2 linked regions of the Homo sapiens genome follow. The protein of the gene in region 2 interacts with the protein of the main gene of each other region in a biochemical or structural test. Each region holds a gene or a part of one and is shown on either strand. Other genes may lie near its edges. The genes, in order: UBR1 and PLIN2.

Region 1 (3,820 bases), on a different chromosome or scaffold from region 2:
GGCTGAGGCAAGAGAATTGCTTGAACCCAGGAGGCAGAGGTTTCAGAGAGCCAAGATTGCACCACTGCACTCCAGCCTGGGTGACGTCTCCAAAAAAACAAAAAAAAAAAGTTCCCCTACAGATATGAGATTATGGGTACATTTTTCTTTGATTTCCATAATGATTATTGCGTAACCATAACAATATTAAACTTTTAAAAAATCCTCCCATTTCAGCAGGAGACAACTTTGGGAAATAACAGAAATATTCTATAACCTGATTTGGTGGTAGTCACACAAGTATATACATTTGTTAAAATTTATCCAAGAAACGCCTTAAATGGGTACATTTTATTGTATGTAAATTATATCTCAATAATGTTAATATCTCTTAACATTCTCAGCTTCTATTACCCCCACTTCCTCTCTACCTCAGTGTCTTCTCATTCATTCATTCATTCATACATTCAATAAAAACTTTGAAGCAATGTGCTAGAAACTAGATACAGCTGTGAACAAGCAACAGTTCAGGCCTTCAAGAACTTCACTGTCTAGAAGGAAAGACACATAGTAAACAGGTAACGTAGAGTACAGTCTGAGACACGCTACATAAAACCATAAAACAGGAGTATAGAAAGGGTGCTATAGGAACACACAAGAGGTGCCTCTTTTTTTTTTTTTTAGACGGAGTCTCACTCTGTCGCCCAGACTGGAGTGCAGTGGTGTGATCTCAGCTCACTGCAAGCTCCGCCTCCCAGGTTCACGCCATTCTCCTGCCTCAGCCTCCTGAGTAGCTGGGACTACAGGCGCCCGCCATCATGCCCGGCTAATTTTTTGTATTTTTAGTTGAGAAGGGGTTTCACCATGTTAGCCAGGACGGTCTCGATCTCCTGACCTCATAATAAACCCACCTCGGCCTCCCAAAGTGCTGGGATTACAGGCATGAGCCACTGCACCAGGCCAAGAGGTGCCTTTAACCTGGCTCTACCATCACAAAAACTTGATGTGCCCCCATGTACTCAAATTCTAAAATGCCCCTTTCTGACCACAAAGTTCAGTCCTCCCACTTATGTCAACCTCATGCCCTTTAACACCTCAATCCCACCAATTCCCTCCAGATTTCCTGTTTTGGCTTTTATTACCTCCCTGTTCAGCCTGGACTCGAAGGTTAGCCACTACCCTAACATGCCGGCTCATTCCCTTTTTTCTATCTACAACCTCCATCCACCAATCACTACTAATCTTACTACAATAAATCATTAATGTTGATCCTCAGTTATTCATTCATTTAAAAATATTTAAGTGTCTTCTGTATCAATCACATACCAAGATACATCAATGTGGCCAGGCATGGTGGCTCATACCTGTAATCCCAGCAGTTTGGGAGGCTGAGGCAGATGGATCATGAGGTCAAGAGATCGAGACCATCCTGGCCAACATGGTGAAACCCCGTCTCTACTAAAAACACAAAAATTAGCTGGGCATGGTGGCATGCCCCTGTAGTCCCAGCTACTCAGGAGGCTGAGGCAGGAGAATCGCTTGAATCCGGGAGGCGGAGGTTGCAGTGAGCCGAGATCGCACCACGCACTCCAGCCTGGCGACAGAGCGAGACTCCGTCTCAAAAAAAAAGATGCATCAATGAACAAGTCACACATGATCCTTCCCTTCATGGAACTTACCTCTCCCTCTGGAGGAAGAAACAGACATTTTGCTAAGTAAATAAAGACAATACAGTAATTACAGATTGTAATAATTGAAATGGGAGAAATAAACAGGTTGCTTTGACAGAGAATAAGAGGAACCCATCTTTTAGACAGAGTGTGTATTAAGAAAAAGCAGAGGAAGAACACTCTAGGAAAAGCAAACAGCAAGCAACAGCACAGACCCTAAAGCAAAATACAGCTTGGGCTTGTACTAACAGGCCAGGATGAGTGAGGAGAATGTAACAGGAAATGAGGTGGAGATGCAGGGGCTGGACCAGGCAAAGTCTTGAAGGCTTGTAATGAGTTTATAAGTATAAGAGAAAGCCACTGAGGATTTAGGTAGGAGACTGACATGATCTCATTTAATCTTTAAAAGATTACTCTGGTTGTTCTGTGCAGAATGGACAGGAAGAGGGCAACAGTGGAAGCAAACAGACCAGTTAGGAAGTCACTGCAGTAGCCAAGACAACAGAGAGTGACTTGGACTACATGGGTGGAGACAGAATTATTTGTCTTCAAGAGCTATGATGGAGGTGCTGTCTACTGAGACAGGGACAACAAAACTCTTGATCTGCCTTTCTCCTTTCCTCTCCTAAAATCTTGTCTTTCCTCTCAATATATGACACAACCAAGGCCAGGTGCGATGGCTCACATCTGTAATCCCAGCAACTGGGGAGGCCGAGGTGGGTGGATCACTTGAGGTCGGGAGTTCGAGACCAGGCTGGCCAATATGGTGAAACCCCACCTCTACTAAAAATACAAAAAAACTGGCTGGGCACGGTGGCTCATGCCTATAATCCCAGCAATTTGGGAGGCTGAGGTGGGCGGCTTGCCTGAGGTCAGGAGTTCAAGACCAACCTGGCCAACATGGTGAAACCCCTCTCTTTACTAAAAATACAAAAATTAACCAGGCGTGGTGGCAGGCACCTGTAATCCCAGCTACTTGGAAGGTTGAGGCAGGAGAATCGCTTGAACCCGGGAGGTAGAGGTTTCAGTGAGCCGAGATCTCGCCACGCACTCCAGCCTTGGCGACAGAGAGAGACCTTGGCTCACAAAAAAAAAAAAAAAAAAAAAAAAAGCCAGGCATGGTGGTGCATGCCTGTAATTCCAGCTACTCGGGAGGCTGAGGCAAGAGAATCACTTGAACTTGGGACAAAGAGGTTGCAATGAGCCGAGATCATACCGCTGGAAACAACACAACCGCTGCCATGAATGCTTAAACCAAAAACTGAGGATGCAGATATCATCTATTCCTTACCTTTTGCCTCATGCCTAATCTATCAGCAAGTCTTTTTGCTTCTTCCATCCTTCTAAAATCTTTCTCACATTCATCCTCTTCACTCTATCTCCAAGGATAACCTTTCCAGTGCAAGCTACCATCAACTATGGCTTGGGTTACAGCAGCAACTTCTTAATTGCTCCCACTGTTTGAAACACCAGACATCCAAGTGAAGATGTCAAGTAGGCAGTTGGATTTATGATTCTGGAGTTCAGAAGTGAGATGACACAGAGATATAAATTTGGGAACTGAATACATACAAATGGTATTTAAAGTCACAGAACTAGATGAAATCCCCTAGGTAGAGGTTATAAACAGGCAATAGAAAAGAGCTGAGTATCATGCCAAGAGGTATCTTCTGAAATTGACTTAAGGAAGAAAATCTAGTCGAGGAAGACAGAAGGCAGAAGTTCTGGCAGACTACCTCACAAGTCTCTTGATTCCCAATTTTTCTCAGTCCTCATTATCATGGACCCAATAAACCACCCTCTCAAAATAATACCCCATGCCATCACACTACTCTCACCTCCTACGTGCTTGCCTATTGTTTCCACGTTCTTACCTCATTCTTCCATTTTCCACCCGTTTCAATCATTCCTGTTCTCTCTTTCTCATCATCTCTGTCTCACTCTCTTTTCCTCTGTGTGTGTGTATATATATGCACACATTTTCCTCCTCAAAGATCTTATCCGGGCTGGGCGTAGTGGCTCACGCCTGTAATCCCACCACTTTGGGAGGCCAAGGCAGATGGATCACTTGAGGTCAGGAGTTCGAGACCAGCCTGGCCATATGGCAAAACCCTGTCTCTACTAAAAATACAAAAATCAGCCAGGTGTGGTGGAACACACCTGTAATTCCA
Region 2 (3,820 bases):
TGGTGAGTGCATTTTCTACGCCACTGCTCACGAGCTGCATCATCCGACTCCCCAAGACTGTGTTAATGCTGCCACTGACCACAGACTTGGTCTTCTCCACACTGCCAGTCACTGCCCCTTTGGTCTTGTCCATCACCCCTGTGATCGTGCTGGCCACAGAATCCTTGGCCCCAGTCACAGTAGTCGTCACAGCATCTTTTGCCCCAGTCACAGCGCCTTTGGCATTGGCAACAATCTGTAAGTAGAAAAGCAGATCCCCTGGCTGGTGAGAAAAATGAGCACAAGGACATACCTAAGGTCTTAACTAAGGCAGCACAGCTGAAGAGTTAAAGAAGGAATCTAGTCCTCTCACTCTAGCTTTAGGTCTTGGGCAAGTCACTAAGAGTTGATGAGCCTGAATTTCCCTATCAAGTATATCTGCCCTACCTGCCAATCCTTGGGAATTGCAGGAGGAGCAAATGAAGTAAACAGATATGAAATTTGTCTGTTTGCCAAGGCTGCAGTGAGCTGTGATTGTGCCACTGCACTCAGCCTGGGTGACAGAGCAAGACCCTGTCTCAAAAAAAAAAAAAAAAAAAGAGAAGAGAAAAGAAAAAAAAAGAAAAGAAAAGAAGGTAAGTTATATAGCTTATTCCAAAGTCACACAAATCCAGAGAGGAAACTGAAGATCAAACTATACCTGGCCCTCGGGGTGTTATTAGTATGCAGTTATTATACATGGCAGGGCATGGTGGCTCATGCCTGTAATGCCAGCACTTTGCAAAGCTGAGTTGGTTGGATCACCTGAGGTTAGGAGTTCGAGACCAGCCTCACCAACATGGTGAAACCCCGTCTCTACTAAATACAAAAAATTAGTTGGGCGTGGTGGCACATGCCTGTAACCCCAGCTACTTGGGAGACTGAGGCAGAAGAATCACTTGAACCCCAGAGGTGGAGGTTGCAGTGAGCCAAAATTGCACCATTACACTACAGCCTGGGCAACAAGAGCAAAACTCTGTCTCAAAAACAAACAAACAATGACAAAAAAAATTAGCTGGGTGTGGCGGGGCGTGCCTGTGAACCCAGCTACTGGGGAGGCTGAAGCAGGACAATTGCTTGAACCCAGGAGGAAGAGACAGCAGTGAGCCGAGATTGTGCCACTGCACTCCAGCCTGGGTGACAGAGCAAGACTCTGTCTCAAAAAAAAAAAAAAAAAAAAAAAAAAGAACACAAGTTACCAACATTTAAAGAAAATATCCGAAATGGAAAATAACTCTCACCATTAGCACAGTCTCAAGCAATGTAAGTGAAAAATTTAAAAGATTTGCACAAGCATTCTAAAGGCTATACACTAAACCTACCTATAGTTGTGTACCACATAATATTTTGGTCAGCGATGGACCACTATTCAATGATAGTCCCATAAGATTATAATGAACTGCCCTATAACAGGTATACTTTTTTTTTTCACTGTACCTTTTCTAGTTTAGATACACGAATACTTATCATTGTGTTACAGTAGTCAGTGTAGTCATGCTGTGCAGGTTTGTAGCCTAGAAGCAAGCAACAGGCTATATACCATATAGCCTAGGTATATAGCAGGCTATACACCATATAGCCTAGGTATATAGCAGGCTATACACCATATAGCCTAGGTATATAGCAGGCTATACACCATATAGCCTAGGTATATAGCAGGCTATACACCATATAGCCTAGGTATATAGCAGGCTACACCACAAGTCCCTAACCCCCGGGCCATGGACCATTACCAGTCCATTACCAGTCCATTACCAGTCAGAGGCGGCATTAGATTCTCATAGGAGACCTAACCCTAACCCTCTTGTGAACTGTGCACGTGCATGCTCCTTATGAGAATCTAATGATAAATATAGTGCACTTGAATCATCCCAAAAACACCACCCACCCCCTGCTGGTCCATGGAAAAACTGTCTTCCATGGAACCAGTTCCTGGTGCCATAAAGCTTGGGGACCACTGGGCTCTACCATCTAGGTTGGTGTGAGTATACTCTGTGATGTTCACACAATGGCAAAATCACCTAATGTGCATTTCTCAAAATATATTCCCATCACTAAGTGACAGATGACTGTATTTAGATTATGAAAAGACACAGAGCTATATTTTTCCCTAACTGGTATCCTTTTGTGCCATTCTGTATTCTTAATTTGAAACAAAATTTTAGGACATTATCTGAACCAAAGGATCACCAGGACAGACAAGCCTATCATTTTTGTCAACACTGGCTAGCTATCCCATATGGATGGTAGTTCCTGGCAGCATTGTACAAGCCAGGTGAGAAAAGGTTATATATATCACGTCTGCATTTATTTAATACCACAAGACAATCAGTTACTTGAGACAGCAATTTCATTTATAGGAGCAAAGACACAAACTGATAGACAACACACTAAAAGTTTTCTAATCCAAAGGAGGCTAGTTCTTCTCTGCTTCGTAGATACAACTTGACAACAGTTCAGGAAGTAAGGAAGTGGCCATTATTTTTCAAACATACATCCAGATCCAGGTTGGGAAAACAAGTATTTGCCTGTTTGTGATATGTACAGCTTGTTTTAACAGATAGAAGATGAAAACATGTGAAGTGTCAAGTCTCAGCACTTTTGTCCCAAGCTCACCTGAGTTGATGGCTGATTCAGAATAGGCAGTCTCTCCTCAATCCTGTCTAGCCCCTTACAGGCATAGGTATTGGCAACTGCAACTAGAATCACAAATGGGAAAATGTTAATGTAGTACTATAGGTATAGAATGAACACACATTACCATAGGCCTTATAAAAAATGGCAATAATGGGCTGGGCACGGTGGCTCACGCCTGTAATCCCAGCACTTTGGGAGGCTGAGGCAGGCGGATCACGAGGTCAAGAGATCGAGACCATCCTGGCCAACATGGTGAAACCCCGTCTCTACTAAAAATACAAAAATTAGCTGGGCGTGATGGTGTGCGCCTGTAGTCCCAGCTACTCAGGAGGCTGAGGCAGGAGAATCGCTTGAACTCAGGAAGCAGGGGTTCCAGTGAGCCAAGATGCATCATTGCACTCCAGCCTGGGTGACAGAGCAAGACTCCATCTCAAAAAAAAAAAAAAAGGCAAGAATGTTGATCTTATACAACAGAAGGCATTGCCTGGTTTATCTAGTTCTGACAGGAAGAGGCCTGGCAAGTTGCTGGCAACTCTCTTCTAAAGGTAAGGAAATATGGGGGTGTGAGGGAGGAGCAGGCAGAGGCAGTGACAGGCCAAACAGGAAGCTGGCTCTGAAGCTTCTTCCTTATCAACTGGCCCCTAATGTTAATGCCAAGAGTAGCCGGGCTTTCCCTGAACTGTCATTCAGAGAATAAGGTATCTGGAAACTCTCTCAAAATCGGCATTCCCATGCTAGTTTAATCCCTACCTACGCTTACTTCAGCACAGGTCAGTGTATTTGGGGTCCTCAGGAGGAAAGAGTATGCCAAGACCACCCTGGATCTCCCTAACAAGGGAGATTTTAGTGTGAGCTTCCCACTAAGAATACCAAACCAAGTACTAGTACCAAATTCATTTAGGAAGTAGCAGAGTTGGAATGGCTGGTCTCTAAAGGCTCCTTATAATCCTAAAAGTCCCTGGCTTAACCATTTGAAAGAATGATTTAAATCTTTATTCAAAAGCAGTTCATGTTGTGGAGAAATTGGAGCCTCCATACAGTGTTGGTGGGAATGTAAAATGGTACAGCTGATTTGGAAAACAGTCTGGCAGCTCCTCAAAAGCTTAAACAGTTATTATATAACCCAGCAATTCCACTCCTGGGTATATACCAAAAAAACCTGAAA

Evidence for each region.
Region 1: the proteins of PLIN2 (region 2) and UBR1 form a complex in vitro, tested with the Homo sapiens proteins (one study listed by BioGRID).

The regions. Positions count from the first base shown.
Region 1 is NC_000015.10:43,099,234-43,103,053, forward strand, and holds part of UBR1 (E3 ubiquitin-protein ligase UBR1), read right to left. Parts: intron 1-3,820. UniProt on the Homo sapiens protein: E3 ubiquitin-protein ligase which is a component of the N-end rule pathway. Recognizes and binds proteins bearing specific N-terminal residues that are destabilizing according to the N-end rule, leading to their ubiquitination and subsequent degradation.
Region 2 is NC_000009.12:19,120,931-19,124,750, forward strand, and holds part of PLIN2 (perilipin-2), read right to left. Parts: intron 2,718-3,820; coding exon 2,635-2,717; intron 236-2,634; coding exon 1-235. UniProt on the Homo sapiens protein: Structural component of lipid droplets, which is required for the formation and maintenance of lipid storage droplets.